6 linked regions of the Homo sapiens genome follow. The protein of the gene in region 4 purifies or fractionates together with the protein of the main gene of each other region. This does not show direct contact. Each region holds a gene or a part of one and is shown on either strand. Other genes may lie near its edges.

Region 1 (3,500 bases), on a different chromosome or scaffold from region 4:
CTTTTTAAAATTGTGGTGAAATACATACAACATGAAATTTTCATTTTAACTATTATTTTGGTGTATAGTTCAGTGGTGTTAAGTACATTCTACTGTTGTGCAACCGTCACCACCATCCATTTCCAGAACTTTTTCATCTTTCTGAACTCAAGCTTTGCATCCATTAAACAATGATTTCTGTCTCCCCCTTTCCCCATCTCCTGGCAACTGTCACCATTCTATTTTCTATGAATTTGACTGTTATAGGTACCTCATATAAGTGGAATCATATAGTATTTGTTCAATTTGTAAGTAATTTACTTCATTTAACATAAAGTTTTCAAGGTTCATCTACATTGTAGCATGTGTCAGAACTTGTTTATTTTTTGAGGCTGAATAATATTCCATTGTTTTTATATGCCATGTTCTGTTTATTCATTCACCCATTGTTGGATATGTGGGTTGTTTTCACCCTTTTACTATTGTGAATAATGTTGCTGTGAACACTGGTGTACAAATATCTGAGTCCCTGCTTTAAATTCTTCTGCGTGTATACCCATGAGTGGAATTGCTGGATCATATGATAATTCTGTGTGTAACCTTTTGAGGAATCACCAGACTTTTCCACAGTGATTGCACCATTTTACATTCCTACCAACAGTACACAAAGGTGTCGGTTTCTCCACATCCTCGCCAATATGTGTTTTCTGTTTTTTTAATAGTAGCCATACTAATGGGTATGTAGTGGTATCTCTCATTGTGGTTTTTGATTTGCATTTCCTAATCTTAGTGATATTGAGCATCTATTCATGTGCATATTGTTTGTTTGTATATCTTCTTTGAAGAAATGTCTATTCAAATCCTTTGCTTGCTTTTTTTTTTTTTTTTTTTTAAATTTTTTCCAGACAGGTTCTTGCTCTGTTCCCCAGGCTGGAGTACAGAGGCATGATGATCATGGCTCACTGCAGCCTCAACTTCCCAGGCTCAAGTGATTCTCCTACCACAGCCTCCTAAGTAGCTGGGACTACAGGCACACACCACCGTGCCTGGCTAATTTTTAAATTTTTTGTAGAGATGAGGTCTCACAGTGTTACTCAGGCTAGTCTCGAACTCCTGGGCTCAGGCAATTTTCCTGACAGCCTCCCAAAGTGCTGTCATTTTTTGTTGTTGTTAGGAGTTTTAGGTGTTTTTTATATATTCTAGGTATTATTCCCTTTCAAATACATGATTTACAAATATTTCCTCCTTTTTGTGGGTAGTCTTTTCATTCTCTTGATAGCGTCCTTTGTTGCACAGTAGTTTTTAACTTTGATGAAGTACAGTTTAACTACTTTTTCTTTTATTGCCTGTGCTTTTGGTATCATGTCAAAGAAACCATTGCCAAATCCAGTGTCCTGAAGCTTTTCCCTATGTTTTCTTCTAAGAGTTTTATAGTTTGAGGTCTTTGATCTAGTTCAAGTTAATTTTTTTATATGGTTTAAAATAAGGATCCAGCTTCATTGTTTTGCATGTGGATATCTGGTTTTCCTAGTGCTATTTATTGAAAAGACTGTCCTTTCCCTATTGACTGATTTTGGCATCCTTGTCGAGGGTCATTTGACTAAGTATGTGAGGATTTATTTCTGGGCTCTCTATTCCATTCCATTAGTCTGTGTATCTGTCTTTATGCCAGTTCCACACTTTTTGATTTGCAGTAAGTTCTGAAATTTGACTCCCCCAGCTAATATTATTTTGGCTGGGCTCAGTGGCTCATGCCTGTAATCCTAGCTCTTTGGGAGGCCGATGGGGGTGGATCACTTGAGGCCAGGAGTTCGCGATCAGCCTGGCCAACATGGCAAAACCCCCCATCTCTACCAGAAAACTACAAAAATTAGCTGGCATGGTAGTACACACACCTGTAGTCCCAGCTACTCACAGCTACTCAAGAGGCTAAGGCAGGAGAATCGCTTGAACTCGGGAGGCGAAAGTTGCAGGAAGCCCAGATCACACCACTGCACTCCAGCCTGGGCAACAGAGCAAGGCTCTGTCTCAAAAAGAGAGATTCTTTTGATGTTAGATTCCATATGAATTTTTGGATAGATCTTTCTATTTCTGCAAAAATTGTCATTGGGATCTTAAGGGGACAACCACTTGTTTTTAACTGATTTTTCTGCATGGACCTCCTTGTGCCATAGCAGCACAGCTATTTGAGAGTTTAAGGCTCTATAAAATGTTTAATTAAGGCTTCTATAGGGTAGTATGCATTATAAAATCTGAAATGATCCAGCCTGGATTTAGATTATGCAAGTTTCTTTGCTTGTATCTTCTCTTTTGGTAAGAAAGAACATACCTAGAAAGTAGACAGCCTCCTTTAGGGAGGAAATAGTATTTGACATGGATATGTCTTGGGAATTGCGTTTCTTTTGCTAGGTAATCTAAGAATTTGTGTAGGCTTTTAGTATGGAGTAGTTTTAGGGTGACTGCTTTAAAACTTCAAAGCTATAGAAATGACCCTCTAAATTGAGAGAATAAAGTCACTTTTAAAGACTGTTAAGCCGTAATTCATGGTAGTATGTAAAAGTAAAATTTTATTTCATTTTAGCATGCCAATGAAGATGTGGAAAGAATGTTACTAGGAAACAAGTGTGATATGGACGACAAAAGAGTTGTACCTAAAGGAAAAGGAGAACAGGTAAAAATCTGAATTAAACTGATACTCTGCTCTGTCTTTGTAAAGGTAATGCTACTTTTGATTATTTTTATAGTAATAGTGATCGAACACACTAAGCTAATTACATAGTTTTTAAAATGCTTGTTGGAAATAATATTTTATCATTTGAGTGAATTTTTTTTCAGTGCATATTTAACATGTATGGGAGAATCAAATGTGCCCATAGTATTTTTAGCCTTATTTAAACTACAAAGAGAGAAAAATATAAGTCATTAATCCTCGGTTTTTAAACTTAGGACTTTAAGGAAATGTATCAATTAGTATGGTTCTAAAATGTGACAATCAGGAGCCTATGGTGAGCAGAAATTAGACCCTGAGGAGTCAGGTTGAGCTTCTCATAAGTTTGCCCCCAGTGTGAAGTATCTGACTTAGAATATCTGAAATAAACTTTTGGGGTAAGGAGATTACTTTTCTTTTGTTTGTTTTATGAAAGAGCTTGACTTGCTGAAATATTCTGTGTTATATATTCTAGTTGGGACCACTGCCTTCAGAATAAGATTAATATTTAAGCTGTTAAAGTCAGCAGTTGGCAACCCATGCTTGATAATTTTATGATGATATTTTGTTTCTGTTTTAGATTGCAAGGGAGCATGGTATTAGGTTTTTTGAGACTAGTGCAAAAGCAAATATAAACATCGAAAAGGCGTTCCTCACGTTAGCTGAAGATATCCTTCGAAAGGTAAGTTCCTGTTTTTATATCCTGCCAGGTACCTGAGTATCTCTGTTGAATATTTTGTCTATTCTGAAGTACTGGATTTACATACAGAATTTGAGTTTGGGTGGTATTGTTTCTGTAGGGCAGCAGTCCCCA
Region 2 (3,500 bases), on a different chromosome or scaffold from region 4:
GAAAACATTGCCTTAATTGACAGGCATCGTGACCCAGATAGTTCTTAATCATTGAAACCTGTTTCTCTCCTCCTTATCCACTGGCTGCCTGGGATTTGTTACCTGGGAAGCAGACTACCATAGCAGTTAAGAGCATGAGCCTAGGAGTCAGACAGACCTTACTTTAAAGCCAGGCTCTTGGCCAGGCACGGTGGCTCATGCTTGTAATGCCAGCACTTTGGAAGGCCGAGGCAGGTGGATCATGAGGTCAGGAGTTCAAGACCAGCCTGGCCAGCATGGTGAAATCCTATCTCTACCAAAAATACAAAAATTAGCCAGGCGTGGTGGCAGGCACCTGTAATCCCAGCTACTCAGGAGGCTGAGGCAGAGAATAGCTTGAACCTGGGAGGTGGAGGCTGCAGTGAGCCGAGATCCCGCCACTGCACTCCAGACTGGGCGACAGTGTGAGACCCCATCTCAAAAAAAAAAAAAAAAAAAAGCCACGCTCTTCCATTTAGTACCTCTATGGACCTCAGTTTCCTTGTCTATAAAATGGGCCTAATATTGGACTCTGCCTCATCAGTTGCTATAAAGACTACATGCATAAATACATATAAAGCATTTAGAACAGGGCCTGGAACGTAGCACTTTTCCAAAAGTATTAGCTCTTCTTGCTATGAGTCAAAAAATAAGATTATGTATGAAAAATGTTTACAACATGGTAGACACCCACCCAATTCTAAGTATGGTTTCATCTCATCATCATTGTTCACCAGGAATTTAGCTGAAGGAATGAAAGGGTATAAAATGTAATGAGTATGTTTGGTCAACTAGGCATTGAGTAGAAAAGAAGCTGAAGCTGAGGGCTGTCATCTGGGAACTGCATTTCCCCCTCCACCTACATTGCTGCTCCTATACTGACTAAGCAGTCCCAGAGATTAAATTGTGTTTCAGGGGGTGGCCGCGGTGGCTCACACCTGTAATCCCAGCACTTTGGGAGGCCAAGGCGGGTGGAACACCTGAGGTCAGGAGTTCGAGACCAGCCTGGCCAATATGGGAAACCCTGTCTCTACTAAAAATACAAAAATTAGCCGGGCATGGTGGTGCACTCCTGTAATCCCAGGTACTCGGGAGGCTGAGGCAGGAGAATCAGTTGAACCCAGGAGGCAGAGGTTGCAGTGAGCCAAGATTGCACCACTGCACTCCAGCCTGGGCAACAGAGCAAGACTCTGTCTCAATAAATAAATAAATACATAAAATTGTGTTTCAGCTGGTGCAGTTGATTTGGGCCGATCCATTCTCTCCTCTTCCAACTCCGATGGCCAGTAACTTGTATTTTTTGATAACTTCTTTATTAAGATATAATTTGCATACCATACAGTCCTCCCATTTAAAGTGTATAGTTCAATGCTTTTTATCCACAGAGCTGTGTAACTATCACCACGACCAATTTTACAACACTTTTATCACCCCAGAAAGAAACCCCACACCCTTTAGCAGTCACCACATTCCCCAGGCTCCCCCAAATAACATGTATCTTTGAACCTTTCTCATGCCATTGTGATACCATCTACGGGTCTTTAGGCCATAGAACACACACCTTGTACATTTGGCTTCATTGGAACCTCACTCCCACAGAGCAGCTCAACTTTTCTTTACCAAAACATAGTCCCACAGGTCCTCCTAGGGTAAACTGCTCATCTCAGCAGTCAGGATAACTTCATCTCTGTCTTTCCTATTTTAAAAAAAAAAAAAAAAAAAAGCATATCAGAATACAAATGAGTAAGATTCATGATATTTTAGAACTGACTTTTTAAAAGGTAAATTATTCTCAATATTTGGTACAGTTCCTTGGACCCAATTACCCACCTTACAAGCGATTGGGTAATCCAGCGTATCATGATGCTGTGGTTAAGGACAGTTGATCTTAAGTGTGGCTGCTCCTATGCCCTTGGTGTGAGATGAGTTCTCTGTAAAGGAAGATCACCTCAGTCAGGACACTTACCCCGCCTTCCAGATCAACCATGGAGCCCCAGCAATCACGGGGACTCAGGTGTCCCAGCCAGAGCTCCCTTATTGCTGCCAACATGCTGACTCAATAAAAATGCATTAAGCACTTTCTTTTAATTGACAAACAATAATTATATATATTTATAGGGATAACACCAATTTTGTATGCAGTATTGTATTAATGGAGTGAGGCATACAGTACAAACAGGATATAGTCTGACCCTCAAAAATGTCTATCTAACTACATAATATTAGTGAAAAAGGGATTGGTATATAAAAAGGGAAAAAGTAATTGTTCGGCTTTGAGGATTTCAAAGATCAATTCTATAACAGAGCCTGGAACCACTAGTGACAATGATTACAAGAGACTGACCCCAAATCCAAGACCTCCTCTCCAACTTCCCTCTCCATCACTCACCTCTGGACACTTTAATAGAGCCATCACCTCTCTGAGGACAAAGAAAATTTCACTCAGTTCTACACGTCTTCCAGCATCTCATGCAGGCCCGCCATCATAGGTACCCTGGAAAAGTTACTAAATGAATAATGAGGACATGTATGTTTAAAGATGACATTCAGCAAGCTACTACTAAATGAATGACTTTTGATGATAATTACATTTTTTACAGTTAGTGGGGATGGGGTGAGAGAGACAGAGTGACACTAAAATAAATAAAACTCTTAATCCTTGTTCTCCTCAGAGTGGAGATGACTCCTCAGAAGAGGAAGAAGGGGAAGTAGATAGTGAAGTTGAATTTCCACGAAGACAGAGGTAAAACCAACAAATGCACACGATTGCTTTTAGTGGAATGGGGAAAAAAAATCCTAAGTTTGCCACACCTGCTCTTCAACCACAGGTGATTCCCTGGCAGCCACCTTATAGGGAACTTTGAACTCACTGTGTTCATGTTTTCCTGTTGCTACATTTTGGCAGTTGTTCGTGCACAGCAGATCCTAGTTCATTAGCATTCATTTTACAGCAACTTCATGATGAGGAGCATGAATACAGATTCAAGGTTACAACTGAGAATACAGTGGGCAGTTTGTGACAGATGGCCATGCTGTTTTATGGGTAATTGTGTTGGTTTCTAGTGTGCCTCCCTGTGTTGGTCTGCTCAGGCTTCTGTAACAAACTGGATGCTTAAACAACAGAAATTGATTTCTCACAATTCTGGAGCTGGGGAAGTTCAAGATCAAGGTTCTAGCTGACTCAGTTCCTGATGAGGGCTCTCCTACTGGCTTGCAGACAGCCACCTTCTTGCTGTTTCCTCACATGGCAGAGAGAGCTCTTCCTTCTTTTAAAAGGTCACAGTCTTATTGGATTAGGGGTCCACTCTTATGAACTCATTTAATATTAATTACCTCCTAAAGACCCTATCTAGAGGGTCTATCTAGATACAATTATATTGGAGTTTAGAGCTTCAACCGATGGATTTGGGAGGAAGGCAATTCAGTCCATAGCATTCCCCATGCCTTAGATTTTATATCTCAAGTTAAATATGATTAGATAA
Region 3 (3,500 bases), on a different chromosome or scaffold from region 4:
AATTCTGTAGAATATAGGATACATTTAGAAGAGTTGCAGTGAGGATTGATGGCTTACTCTGTGCTTTTGGCTCTTGAAAATGATTACCTTTGCCAAATTTATAGTTCTAAGGCAGTCTCATTCCCTGAACTCCTCATAGATCAAAATCATGTCTTGGATACCTCCATTTGGAAATGTGTTAGACATTTCAAATCCACTAGTCCAAAAGTTAACACTTGATTTTCTGCCTGACATCTGCACTTCCTTCATTCTTTCCCATCTTGTTAATTGGGGCCTCACTTCTTTCAGTTACTCAGGCCAAAAACCTTGGAGTTATCCATGATCCTTACTTTCTCTCACACCTCACTTCTAATTTGTCAGCAGATATGATTGATTTTTCCTTTGCAATATATCCCAAATCCAGTTCCCACGTCTACTAGTGCCTCCTGGTCCAAGCTGTCATTAACTTTTACCTAAATTACTATGGTAACCTTGTAAGTGGTCTTTTTGTTTCTGTACTTTTCTCATTGTAGTTATTCTTTGTTCTGAGGTAAGAGTGGTTCTTTTAGTTTGTGAGATAGAGCATGTTATTTCCCTACACAGAGTGCCCAATGGTTTTCTACCCTGATCCTGAATAGCGTTCAGAGTCATTACTGTGATCTGCACAGCCCTATAAAATGTAGCCCCGTTTTACTCTGAGTCGCTAAGCGTTCTTCTCCCTATTTTTCCTTCTATCCATGTTAGCCTTCTCCCTATTTCTAAAATATTCCTGGCACATCTCTGTCTTACGATCTTTGCAGTTGCTTATTTTCTGCATGTAGTACTATTTACCCTCTGCTGAGTACTGTTTACTCCCTTACTTCAAGTCTCTGCTCAAATATTTCATCAGGAAGACCTTCTCGGACCAGCTTATCTGCCTCCATCCCCATCACTTCCTCCCTTTGTGTGCTTTCTTCAGAGCACTTACTACCACCTGACATATTTATTTGGTTATCTGCCTCCATCTTCTAGAAAATAAGCCTCCGGAGGACAGAACATTACTGGGTTCAGGAAGCAGTCCATAAATATTTACTGGGTAAATTATGTAAATAATATCCAAAAATATGTTAAAAATACCTAATTCTGCATGACCTTTACAACTAGGCAGCATTATTCAGTGATAACTGAAGTTGCTTTTTCTCTTTCTTGATGATAGTGCGTAATGGGAAAACTGAGTGTTACCTTTCCATCCAGACTCAAGAGAACTTTCCGGCCAATTTAAACGAACTTGTGAATTGTATTGTAATCAGTTCTCTGGTAACTACACAAAGGAAGTTGAAAGCCATGTCTCTGTTGGGTAGTCGGAACCAACTGGCTAGAGCTGTTCTGAATCCAAACCCTATGGACTTCTGTACAAAAGATTTACTGACTACAACATCTGAGAGAATTGTGAGTGATGATGTATGATACTAGATAATTTCATGTTAAGATGTTAAAGCATCATATTTTTTAGCTGCTATGTATTCCTATATGTTTACAACAAAAATGTGTTCACGGTGAACAGTTTAGTGTTAGTTTTCTTTAGTATTGCAAAGTATGTAATTTAGGTTAAGTCAGCTCACTTCAGGAAAAGGTACAGTACAATAAGCGTCGAAGGTTGCTGGAAGAGCAACATTAAAATGTTAGGTCAGCAGCCTACTTAATGTGCATTAGGTGAGAAGTCTCAGGTTTAGTGGTGTTAAATTTACATTTGAATGATTGATGGAGAATTGGCCGGTATTGTTGGAAATGCAAAGATGAAGTTGTCAACTGAACATGTGAAGCTGTGTATAAACTCTAGGAAGTTAACAGAGAAATGCAAAAGGAAACTAACTATTTAGAAACTCTAGAGCTGTATGCTATGGCTTTCATGTGCATTATCTCAGTCTGTTCTCACCTCTTAAGGAATCCTAGATTTAATGAGTAACAGAGGCCAAGGCTTGGGTTAGGAGCGTAGTGGCCTAGCTTGTAAGTGCAAGTGAAGCTTACACCCAGATCTTCCCCTGGCATACATGCTTTTTCCACTGTATCACATGTGCTAGGAAATAAATAGTCTTGGGATGTTTTCACTAAGGAGAAAATTGACTAAAGAAGGAAAAAAACAGAGTAGTAAATAGAAGAAAAGTTGTGGATTAGTAAATGCAATTTATTGTGATTATCTTTGTAAGAATAAAAAATAAAAGTACAGTTGTATTTGTAAGTACTTGAAGCGTTACAGACACTAATTAGTAATTAGTAAGTAATTAGCTTTCTTTCCAGTAGTGAACGTGCTTTTTAGATTAAAGGTCACTTTGGTGTCCTTGTCTTGTCTGACCATAACCAAAGCTTTTGTCTCATGCATTGAAAGAAATTTGGACAGGTCTTTTTCATGTTCTTCCTTTCAAATTCCACTACAGAAACAGCAACTCATTCTCAAAAATGTGTTTTTTATATAGATTGCGTACTTAAGAGATTTCAATGAAGATCAAAAGAAAGCAATAGAAACTGCATATGCTATGGTGAAACACTCACCATCAGTTGCCAAAATCTGCTTGATTCATGGACCACCTGGAACAGGAAAATCAAAAACTATTGTTGGCCTCCTCTATCGTCTACTGACAGAGGTAGGTATGGGTGAGGGCACTGATGCTGTTAACTAGCTGTATCATTTTACTTTACTTGAGTTAACTGACATGTAAATAAGTATTAACATGCCATTTCCTCTTTGATTTGTATATATTTTTTATATTGTGTGTAACTGTGTCAGAGAAAAGGGTGGCAGAGGGAGGGAAGGTTATGGGAAATAAAAAGAGGAAAAAACCACTATCTTATGTGAAACAAATCGTAAGGACTAGAATGATGGTCTTCAGGCTTCACGGTAGGTCACGTAGAATGCTGTGAATGCTGGGCTGCATTTTGGTTGGATTGTGGTTTTTTGTTTTTTTTTTTTGAGACAGTGTCTCGCTGTCATCCAGGTTAGGGTACAGTGGCACGATCTTGACTCACAGCAACCTCTGCCTCCCAGGTCAAGTGATTCTCCTGCCTCAGCCTCCCGAGTACCTCCCTAGTGGCTGGGATTACAGGCGTACACCACCACCCACAGCTAATTTTTGTATTTTTAGTAGAGATGGGGTTTCGCCATGTTGGCCAGGCTGGTCTCGAGCTCCTGACCTCAAGTGATCCGCCCGCCTCGGCCTCCCGAAGTGCTGGGATTACAGGCGTGAGCCACTGTGCCTGGCTTGGATTGAGTATTCATTAAAGTAAGTGGATGATAAAGTAAGGCTCAGAGCAGTTATGACAAATTTTTTTGCTGGAGTAATTTTAAATATCAGTGTTAGATGTAGATGCTTTTATTTATTTTTAACTTTATTACGAGAACTTTCAAAAATACATGGAAGTAAAGACAAACTTTAAAGCTATGTAATAGAGCTCACCCATATTTTTTGTGTGTTTGTTTGGTATGTATATGTGGCAAATTGTAGAACCAGAGGAAGGGGCATTCAGACGAAAACTCCAATGCCAAA
Region 4 (3,500 bases):
GCCCAACCCCATGTTCACCCAGAGCCAGGTGGTGGGGGTAGAGCGAGGGCCTGAGAGGGATGCTGGGTCTGGCTCATCCCCACCCCACCGTTTCAGCCAGCACCGTCTTCCCAGAGGACCTGACATCCTAGCCCAGACTCTGGTGTAGGTGGGGACACAGGAAGTTGATTGGAAAAGTGGACTAACTTAGAGATTTCCAAGGCAAAAATCCAGAGAGCCCTGGGACACCTGTGGTTAATTCATTCAGCATTTGTCAAGTACCTATTAGGCACCACACATGTTGATCAAAACAGATATGATCCCACCCATATGGATTAACTGACTCCAAGGGGAGGCCACCGCGGGCCGCATAACCCAAAGGTAAAATTACAGTGATACGGAACCACAGCCAGGAGGGACTCCGAGAGCCCATAGCAGGGCGGTTTGGCTTGGTCCCAGAGGTCAGAGAAGGCTTGCAGAGGAGACCATGCTACTGCTTTGGGAGCTGCGCTATTGAAGGAGGAGATAAAGGTGGGAGGTGGGGGGAATGAAGGGAAATGATACTGGTTGGAGGGAAAGGAGGCTTTACAGAGCCTTCAGGCCACAGATGAGAATTTGGGCCCCTTCTCCTAAGGACCAGGGGAAGCTATTAAAGGGCTTTGAGCTGGGAAGAGTGACCAGACCAGATTTGTAATTCAGAGGTCAGCTTTGCTGTCATTACCTGGTGGAGAGTGGCTGGTAGAGGAACCAGAGGGAAATGGGGAACCCACTTAGGGTTGAGCGGCCAGTCAACAGGTGTCCTGAGAACTCACTGGGAGCCAGCTTCGTTCTCAGCACTTAGAGGGCTGCAAAGAGGCAGGCTGGATCCCTGGACCACACGTGCCCTCTGTCACAAGAGAGGCTTGTGGGGCATTGTGGCCAGGACCCAAGGTCAATCAGCTGGCATCCTTACCTCCTCACCACAGCACAGCCAGGAACACAAAGGCCCAAGAATGACATCTGAACAGCCAATGCCTGGCTCAGATTTGGCCTTGCTCAGCTAAAGCCTCAGCACTTTACCACTTAACCTTTGCTTTACATACACTTCTAACTCAGCCTACTACGGAGCTGAAATAGTCCGTTAGAAAGGGCAGGACTGTGGTTGGTGGAAATGTGACCCAGCAAGGCAGGGGAAAAGGGCCTGAAATCAACATCAGAACACAAAAGGCATGTTTGTTCAGGGCCATTTAGAAAAGTGCAGCTCAGGGTGGGGTGGGAGCAGGAGCTGGTATGGCGAGAACAGTGAGGAGCTGGCAGGGCAAAAGCAAGGACTGGGGCAGCAGAGTAGGAGGGATCAGGTGAATGCAGGAACAGGGCCTCAGGTAGAAAGGTCAGGGCGGTCTCCAGAGACCAAACTCACAGCTCAGAGCCACCAAACGTTAATATGGATGACGTCTCAAGGATCACAGCATCCAGGATAGACAAGCAGGTCTGATGGGTGGGCAGGGGCTGCTTCTACAGGAGACTGCTGAAACTTCCAGACCCAGAGGTGAGGGAGGCCGGCCTGCGGAGGGCCGTAGGATTCAGTTTGGAGGCCTCCTGGTGCTAAGGCTGCCATGAGCAGGGTGGATCAGGCGGGACAGGAGGGAACCGCCCTCTTTTCCCCTTCTTCCCCTCCCTTCTCCCCTCCATCTTTTCCTCCCTCCTCCTTTCCCTCCCTTCCCCACATTGACCTTCCATGAGCCTTCAGGGACCAAGTGTCTGTTTAGCCTTCTCTCCATAAAGGGACCCCCCAGGGTTTTAGCTGGGAGGCCAGAACATCTGGTGCCTGGAAAAGAGGAAAGGGCAGAGTCTTGGATGGGGGGTGACTTGCACAGGGTACTCTTTGACCAATCAGTCCCCCTTGATCCTTGGTAGTGACCTCCTACTCACACAAATTCCATTCTGCTAACCCTCACCAGCCCTCTGAGGTGGGTGGGCAGGGATTGGTGGCTTCATCCTGTATCTGGGAAGCTGAAGCATAAGGCACCTTTATGTCTAAGCCTTAGTGTTCCTCATCTGTAAAATGGGAAAAATGGAACAAACCCTCTCCCAAGGTTGTTGCAATGAGGATTAAGAGAGATGCATGGCATAAATGTTGGGGCCAAGATGGGGCAGCTTCAACGTGAAAGAGTCAGGATTTATTTCAGGCCTCCTGCTTCCAAGCCTGATATGGTGATCATTCTTCCATCCTGCCTTACTTATGAGAGGCACCTAAAAAGTCAGACAAAGCATCCCCCTTAACCCACCCCAGTAGAGCCAGGGATCAGGCATAGGCTCTCTGACCCCCAGCCCAGTATTCTTTCTAGCATTGCCCAATTAAAGCCCAGTGCCCTCAGCTGTACAGGAAGAATGCTGCTGTCCTTGCCCCACCCAGACCTATTGTCCAAGGAAGTGGGAATATCAGGTGATGTTGAGGGTGTAGAAGTGAACTGAGAAGCCTCTAACCCAGGTCTAAGCCAGACCCTGCAGGCCCTGCTCCAGCCTGCAGTTCGAGAGGAGCAGGTGGAGGCAGAGGCTGTCCTGTGACAGACATCTAGCAGGCTCATGCTGAGGACTCAGTGTATGCAGGATGAACTCGCCAGCTCTGCCCTCCAGGAGCAAGGGGAGGAAGGGGTCTTGATCACCTGCTGGGTACAGTATAGGGTCATCAATCAGGGTGCTGGATACAGGCCCCATCCACCTTTGGAGCAGCCAGGGGGTGGGAAGTGGGTGTTTCTGAGGGAGGGCTGGCCCTGTCTGCTGCACACACTACTGTACATCCAGGCAGATGGTGACATCAGCCACATGCAAGGGCTGGGAGGGCTTCCTGGAAGAATGAGCTTAACTGAGCACTCTTCCAGCAAGCATGGTTTGAGAGTCTGCCACGTGCTCCCTCTGAGCACTGGGTTTGGCACTGGGGAGACACAGTGCCCACGCAGACTACGCATGGAGCTGGAGGCCTTGCCTGCAGGCACAGGAACCTGCTGCTAGTGGAGAGCCTTGAGGGTTCCAAGTGGGGCGGGAGGGATGATGGCATTTCTGGCAGTTTTGCCTGATAGTGGCAGGTGGAGTGGGATGGTGCAGGCATAGGGAGACTGAGACAGACAGGCCAGTGGGGACATCTGGGAGGGCAGAGGCAGGAGCTGGACTAGGGCTTGGCAGTGAGGAAGCGGAGCCATGTGTGAGGAGACACAGATGTGTGCAGGGGGGCTGGGCACCATGGCTCACGCCTGCAATCCCAGCACTTTGAGAAGCCGAGGCGAGCAGATCACCTGAGGTCAGGAGTTCAAGACTAGCCTGGCCAACATGGTGAAACCCTGTCTCTACTAAAAATACAAAAATTAACCAGGTATGGTGATGCACACCTGCAATCCCAGCTACTCAAGAGGCTGAGGCAGGAGAATCACTTGAACCCAGGTGGCAGAGGCTGCGGTGAGCCAAGATCATGTCATTGCTCTCCAGCCTGGGTGACAGAGCGAAAGGCCGTCTCAAAAAAAAAAAAAAATATATATATATATATA
Region 5 (3,500 bases), on a different chromosome or scaffold from region 4:
TAGTCAGTTAAAAACACATCACAGTGGTTATTTCTCAAAACCTAAAACCGAAAAATTTTTAAAAACACAAAAAACAGCGCCGGGCACAGTGGCTCAGCCTGTAATCCCAGCACTTTGGGAGGCCAAGGCGGGCGGATCAGGAGGTCAAGAGATTGAGAACATCCTGGCCAACATGGTGAAACCCCATCTCTACTACAAATACAAAAATTAGGTGGACGTGGTGGTGTGTCCCTGTAGTCCCAGCTACTTGGAAGGCCGAGGCAGAAGAATCACCTGAACCATGGAGGTGGGGGTTGCAGTGAGCCGAGATCACGCCACCGCACTCCAGCCCGGTGACAGAACGAGACTCCATCTCAAAAAAAAAAAAAAAACCACACACACACAAAACAAAAATCTCAAAGAAAACGACTGCCCCCTTCTTTTGTACCTTTTCTCGGATTTCCAGAGCTCTTTTACACAACGGCTCTGCTTCTTTGTACTTCCCTCTTTTACCATAAAGGACTGCAAGGTTATTCAAAGTCGCCGCCACCTGTCAACACAGAGAGAACCACTAAGAATGGTAAAAGATAACCAAATAAGAGTACATTTATACACCACATATTCATTTATATTCAATCTATACAGTAAAGCATTCTTAGTCGGATAGAACAATATGACTTCAGTTAAAATGAAAAGCGCAATTCACTAGAGTATAGATTATACAAAGTAACACTGCAGAATACTAAAATTAAACAAATCAACAACGTATTCCTGACTTTTTAAAAATTTCCCTGGAAGCCACAAAGCCAACCAAAACAGATTCATATGCAAATCTGACCAGATTTTAATGAAGACAATATAATTTTCAGAAAAAAATTTCTAGAAGGACATGCAATTTGATTTACAATCAAACAATACAGTTGGTGATCCATTTGAGGTGGGGTCATAAACAAATTAAGTGTGCTCTGGCCTGTCACTAGCACTGAGTAAGTGAAGACCTCCTACCTGCACCATCTAGGGAAAAGGCAGCACTTAAACTTTCCCTGTTGAGTTTAATGGTAAAATGAGTTGGATAAAAGAAATATATGGGGAAAATAAAATATTAAAAGAATGAAAGAACTGGATATACAAACCGCAGGATGATCTTTGCCCAAAGTTTTCTCACGAATAGCCAAGGCATCATTCAGTAGGTTAGCTGCATCTTTGTATTTATTCTGATCCCTAAATGGAAAAACACACATTAAGTGTTTCAGATGTAGATCACTACAGCTTTTCTTTTCTTTTCTTTTCTTTTTTTTTAGACAGAGTCTGACTCTGTTGCACAGGTTGGAGTGCAGTGGTGCCATCTTGGCTCACTGCAACCTCCGCCTCACGGGTTCAAGCAATTCTCTGCCTCAGCCTCCTGAGTAGCTGGGATTACAGGCATCTGTCACCACGCCCGGCTAATTTTTGTATTTTTAGTAGAGACGGGATTTCACCATGTTGGCCAGGGTGGTCTCAAACTCCTGACCTCATGATCCACCCGCCTAGGCCTCCCAAAGTGCTGGGGTTACAGGCATGAGCCATCGTGCCCGGCCTCACTACAGCTTTTTTAAATGTAATTTTCAACTACAGAAATAAAAGTTAAGCTTAAACTATTTAAGAAAAACCACAGGGCCGGGTGCAGTGGCTCATGCCTGTAATCTCAGCACTTTGGGAGGCTGAGGCGGGCAGATCACGAGGTCAGGAGATCGAGACCATCCTGGCTAACATGGTGAAACCCCATCGCTACTAAAAATACAAAAAAATTAGCCGGGTGTGGTAGCAGGCGGCTTTAGTCCCAGCTACTCGGGAGGCTGAGGCAGGAGAATGGCGTGAACCTGGGAGGTGGAGCTTGCAGTGAGCAGAGATCGTGCCACTGCACTCCAGCCTAGGCGACAGAGTGAGACTGTCTCAAAAAATAAATAAATAAAAAGATGGGTGTGGTGGCTCACGCCTGTAATCCCAACACTTTGGGAGGCTGAGGCGGGCGGATCACGAGGTCAGAAGATCGAGACCATCCTTGCTAACACAGTGAAACCCTGTCTCTACTAAAAATACAAAAAAAAATAGCCGGGCATGGCAGCATGCGCCTGTTGTCCCAGCTGCTGGGGACGCTAAGGCAGGAGAATGATGTGAACCCGGGAGGCGGAGCTTGCAGTGAGCATAGATCGCGCCACTGCACTAAAGCCTGGGTGACAGAGCAAGACTCCGTCTCAAAAGAAAAAAAAAAGAAAAAAGAAAAACCACAAGCTTATGGATGGGGAAAAAACACTGGAAGGAAATCCACCAATAAATGGACTGGCAAGGTGAACTCTGGAATCAGACCCAACTAGCTTCTGAACTTAACCTTCCCATCTAGGCCACTGGGAAGATAATGTCCCCACACTACAGTGTTGTCCTGCCTATGCCAGCTGGCCAGCACAGAATAAGTGCAACAGTCTAGAACAATGGACCAAGCTTGCATTTGGTTTCAGACAGAATTAATTCTAGTGTCTGAGCTTGGGCTCTACCAGTTAATGGCTACATGGCTTTGGGTGCATTACGTGACCTCACGCAGTCCCAGCCTTCCCATCTACAAAGCAAGTATATGATCTATTGCACAGTCTTGCTGTAAGAAGATGATATGCTACATGTATACTGAAAAAATATTTTAAAAAACAACAAACAAAAGTAAATATATTGTTGTGTCTGAACTTGGTACCCAGTCTCCCTCCATTTTGTTGAGTATGGAGGAACGAAGAATCTTTCTTGATTGGAGTAAAACAGAAACACCCCAGAACCAGAAACTCTCAGTTTAAGCGTGCTACTCACTACTGATGTGACTGAGAACAAGTACTTGCTTTTGAGACTTAGCACACATCTTTCTCAATTGAGTAGTAGTAACTGCCTGGCAAGGCTTTCCCCTGAAAAACGTGAGAAAGGTTAATAAGGCTTCTACAACCTCTGAAGCACACTAATTCTGGCCACGTATTAATATATTGTTGTTTCTTCTTTCATCCTATTACATCCTATTGTAAGCTGCCTCAAACTTTTTGTGAAAGTCAGCAAGTACAAAATAGAGTTCCAAAAAGTAGTGGCCAGGTGCGGTGGCTCACACCTGCAATCCTAGCACTTTGGGAGGCTGAGGCGGGCAGACTGCCTGAGCTCAGGAGTTCAAGACAAGCCTGGGCAACACAGTGAAACCCCATCTCTACTAAAATACAAAAAATTAGCCAGGCCTGGCGACATGCACCTGTAGTCCCAGCTACTCGGGAGGCTGAGGCAGGAGAATTGTAGCAAATGCAATTTAAAAATAAGCTACCAAGGCTGGGCACGGTGGCTCACGCCTGTAATCCCAGCACTCTGGGAGGCTGAGGCGGGTAGATCACCCGAGGTCAGGAGTTCAAGATCAACCAACATAGCAAGACCCTGTCTCTACTAAAAATACAAAAATTAGCTGGGTGTGGTGGCAGGCACCTGTAATCCCAGCTACTCGGGAGCCTGAGGCAGAAGAATCGCTT
Region 6 (3,500 bases), on a different chromosome or scaffold from region 4:
TTAGCTGGTAGAATGTACCTTGGCTAAAGAAGATTCCCTCTGCCACACTCGTGCTGTAATGTACTGCGAGGCGACCCCAGAAATTATCCCAGTGTGTGCCATCTGTATTAAAATGGTTATTCAGTTATGAACAGGGTAACATAATACTGATCAGCTAATTATACACCCTCCGAAAACCCTCCAGCTCCCTCGGCCTGGCTCAGCCAGGTATTGAAAGCATAGCGATTTGACATTCAGATACCTTCCAAAGGAGCTGGAGAAAGACGCTGGGTGGTTTGGGAGAGGAATAAGCCCTTTGCTTTAAAAGCCAGGAGAGGAGGCTGGGGCAGCTTTGGGCTGAGGCAAGAGTGGCACTTCGGGAGGGGAAGGGGACAAAGCATTGTTTTATGAGCCATGTAGAGACTCAGTCTCTTGGCTGATTGCTGGTCCTGGGCATGAGTTGGAACTGAGATCTCAAGAGAAGAACAGCCAAGGGCCAAGAGTGGCCCTGCTGTGTGCAGTGTTGCTGGGACTGGGTAGTGGTCTTCTGCAGAACATTTAAGAGAAATGCTTGTTGTCAGTAACAGAATTTTCAAGCCTTTGGAGAAACCCAAGTCATGTAGGATTTAGGTAATTTGTTTCTCTTGAATGGGGTAGAGGAGTGGCGCAACAAGTCAGGTGTGGTGGCCCCGTCCAACACCCCCTGCCCCTCCCCTCAACAACATGCACTCCTCATTGGCTGAGATGATTTTGGAAGCTGGCTTAGGCATAAGTTTGGAAATACTTCTATCCTGAAAAGCCATGGAGAACAAGGGCCAGGTGACCCTAGGATCAAGCTCCAGAGGTCTTGAGGTGCACCCACCAGAATTAGGACAAAGTAGACAAGTGAGCCACAAGTGAGATGAGGGTGGGGAAAGAGTAGCCTCAGCTTGACAGCTGTGACAGCTGCAGAACCTGCCCAGCACAGAGCCCTATCACCTGAGGGGCACACAGGCTTCCTTTGGGTGTGGAGAAATAGCCATCTGTGGGCAGATGTTGCTGGAGATGGAGAGGGAGTAGGAGGAGAGGAACAGGTAAGCCACCAACAACACGGGCAGCCTACCCTGGGTCCGTAGTTAGGCTTCATGGCTGGCTTTGTCTACAAGGAGCAGGAAAACTATTCCCAATTTTGCTTTTGTCCAGAATCCTCTCATGGTTCATATTTTGGAAAGAATTCTGGGGGCTTCCCTGTGTGCTGCTGAGTTGGGGCTGGAGAAATCCACCTGGGGAACCACGCTCTCATCTTCATCCCTGTAGGTGCTTTTTGCTCTGAAGAGGGAAGGTTTATCTGAGATGTATTGTTTCACCCAAAAGCCTGATAAAAACAGGATGTTTCTGCTAGTGCTGGTTATATCAGAAACTTTGCCTTTTATCAGTTCTGGGAATTCTCACTCACTGTAGGAAGAGCCCGGAGATTTTCCTGTGTGCACAAAGTGTGGTGCACCGGGGAACGGGTGGTTCTTGAGTTTAGAGCTTTGTTGGTAGTGACCTGCCCACTTGTGTTGGGTACTTTATAACAGTTATGAGTAAGGTTGTGCATGAGCTGGTGGTTGGCAAGAAAAGAAGTCCACACATGCTCACCCACCTGAGCTAGTGGTTTTTCATCTTCTCCTTCCCAAAACAGATGCTGTCGCCACACTTGAAATATGCTGTTATGGTTATAAACTAAATTGCTTTTTTCACTCTTTAAAAATGGTTTTGGCATTCTCTGATTCTGTTGTGATAAAGGCCTGGCCATCCAGCCTGTATTCTCCACTAGCAAATCCTCAGAAATGCCTCTCTGAACCAGAGGACTGGGTCAGGAAGGCCTCCCCACTGCCACAAACCACGTTCAAAAATCCCAAGGCTTGACTGGGCTCCTTAGCATGTGGAATTTATCTGAATCTTTCTAAACATTGGGTTACCAATGGCTGAGCATGGAGTTGCCAGCTTTTTGGTTTGTACACCGCTGCTGTAAAGGGCAGGTGTTTATAAACAGGGGACTTTAGATTGAAACCTGGTGTGGGACATGGCCTGGAGAGGGGAGAGGTGGAGGGAGATCCATGCTACTGAAAAAGGAAAAAGTCGTCTAGTTACATAGCTGAGCAATTGTCTAAGCAGGAGGGATTTTCCTGATTATATGCCAAAATCTTCTGGTTTGGCTGTTACTCTGGGCAGAGAATACACCTCCTTTGAAAGAACAGGCACAGACCCCAAATAGAGTCTGGGGTTACTGACAATCCCCCGAGGGTGCTCTTTTGGGAAGAGCTGACAATAAGGGTGTCACCTTCTAACTTTTTTAGCTTGCCTAACACTCTTTGGAGTCAGGGCACTCTCTGCCCCTAGATCTTTGGAGTGGACCCTGGCAGAATCAACTTCTCACGGATCTCCCACTATCCACACTCTCTCTTAGCCTGTTAGGCTCTAGGTGAGTACATTCATTCTCCTAGCAGTGGCAACCCAGGGCTGTGTTAAGGAATTCCATCCTGTATCATTTGGGTGTCCCTCTTCTGTCATTCTCAGGTCTTTGAGTCATTCTCAGGTCATTGTTCCCCTTGGGTCAGGCAGTGGGGTGACAATGGTCTACTAGTTGTTCGTTCAAAGACCTTTCCAAATAAGCTGGGAGCTATTAATCCTAGCCCCGTGAATGTTGAAGATATGTTCCGGGCTAGGGTCTGTTTCTCCCTCTCTGAAACTCAGGTTCCAGAACATTGCCTATTCTACTCTTGGACCTGGCTTGGCATGAAGCTTGGCCAGAGGGGTGGTACTGCCTACCACATCTCCATATCTTTGTAGCTGTTTGGTGGTCAGGGCTGTTGGTCTCATGGCAAAGAGACAGGGCAAGTTGGAGAGTTCAGAAAAAGACTTCTATCCACAGAGGAATGGCAGAAACAAGGACAGGGAACTCACCTTCTGTGGCCTGAGCCTAGCAGATTGGGCCCACAAATAGCAGACCAACATGCCAATTTCTGTCAGAGAAGCCTCGCTCACCTGTCCTTTCCCAGAGACAGTCCCCTACTGTGAGGTTACCCATCATTGGAATAACATTTGAAACAGGCATGATGGTTGAAATTCTCATTCCTTAAAATGAGCTGGAGTTGTCCTCCTGAAAAGCCTCTTTTTGTTTTTGTAGTTGTTTTAGCCTGGGCTTCCTGGCCCACAGTCCTGTTGGTCTGACTGTCTCCCTGTTGGCTGGTTCTGTGGGTGTTCAGGCTACAAAAGGGGTTTCTGGTGAGAGCAATTGCTGCTTGCCCTGCCTTCCTACCTCAGCTGGCAACTCTCGAGAAGAGGCAGACAGGAGGCACTGGGCCTGACAACAGCTCCAGGTGCATTTCAGAAGGTGACGCAAAGAAGAAAAGAGAGGGAAAACCCAAAATGAATAAATAAATAGTGTCCCAACTGTTCTGAGAACTCAATAAAACAATCACATCAAATATGAAGAGGCATAAATCTTGTGTCTGCACAGGTAACCTACTCAATTGCTTTTATTATCGCTCAGGCTG

Evidence for each region.
Region 1: the proteins of MAPK8IP1 (region 4) and RAB10 purify together in Homo sapiens (affinity purification with western blotting; one study listed by BioGRID). This does not show direct contact.
Region 2: the proteins of MAPK8IP1 (region 4) and MAP3K13 purify together in Homo sapiens (affinity purification with western blotting, with the first as the bait; one study listed by BioGRID). This does not show direct contact.
Region 3: the proteins of MAPK8IP1 (region 4) and SETX purify together in Homo sapiens (affinity purification with mass spectrometry; 2 studies listed by BioGRID and IntAct, with this or other methods). This does not show direct contact.
Region 5: the proteins of MAPK8IP1 (region 4) and KLC1 purify together in Homo sapiens (affinity purification with western blotting; one study listed by BioGRID). This does not show direct contact.
Region 6: the proteins of MAPK8IP1 (region 4) and PAX2 purify together in Homo sapiens (affinity purification with western blotting, with the first as the bait; one study listed by BioGRID). This does not show direct contact.

Annotation. Positions count from the first base shown.
Region 1 is NC_000002.12:26,124,584-26,128,083, forward strand, and holds part of RAB10 (ras-related protein Rab-10), read left to right. Parts: intron 1-2,560; coding exon 2,561-2,650; intron 2,651-3,266; coding exon 3,267-3,368; intron 3,369-3,500. UniProt on the Homo sapiens protein: The small GTPases Rab are key regulators of intracellular membrane trafficking, from the formation of transport vesicles to their fusion with membranes.
Region 2 is NC_000003.12:185,474,636-185,478,135, forward strand, and holds part of MAP3K13 (mitogen-activated protein kinase kinase kinase 13), read left to right. Parts: exon of another isoform or gene 1-1,714; intron 1,715-1,848; exon of another isoform or gene 1,849-1,949; intron 1,950-2,407; exon of another isoform or gene 2,408-2,690; coding exon 2,691-2,761; exon of another isoform or gene 2,762-3,500. UniProt on the Homo sapiens protein: Activates the JUN N-terminal pathway through activation of the MAP kinase kinase MAP2K7. Acts synergistically with PRDX3 to regulate the activation of NF-kappa-B in the cytosol.
Region 3 is NC_000009.12:132,295,987-132,299,486, reverse strand, and holds part of SETX (probable helicase senataxin), read left to right. Parts: intron 1-1,174; coding exon 1,175-1,407; intron 1,408-2,432; coding exon 2,433-2,600; intron 2,601-3,458; coding exon 3,459-3,500. UniProt on the Homo sapiens protein: Probable RNA/DNA helicase involved in diverse aspects of RNA metabolism and genomic integrity.
Region 4 is NC_000011.10:45,892,151-45,895,650, forward strand, and holds part of MAPK8IP1 (C-Jun-amino-terminal kinase-interacting protein 1), read left to right. Parts: intron 1-3,500. UniProt on the Homo sapiens protein: The JNK-interacting protein (JIP) group of scaffold proteins selectively mediates JNK signaling by aggregating specific components of the MAPK cascade to form a functional JNK signaling module. Required for JNK activation in response to excitotoxic stress.
Region 5 is NC_000014.9:103,667,211-103,670,710, reverse strand, and holds part of KLC1 (kinesin light chain 1), read right to left. Parts: intron 1,201-3,500; coding exon 1,113-1,200; intron 530-1,112; coding exon 428-529; intron 1-427. UniProt on the Homo sapiens protein: Kinesin is a microtubule-associated force-producing protein that may play a role in organelle transport. The light chain may function in coupling of cargo to the heavy chain or in the modulation of its ATPase activity.
Region 6 is NC_000010.11:100,752,082-100,755,581, forward strand, and holds part of PAX2 (paired box protein Pax-2), read left to right. Parts: intron 1-3,500. UniProt on the Homo sapiens protein: Transcription factor that may have a role in kidney cell differentiation. Has a critical role in the development of the urogenital tract, the eyes, and the CNS.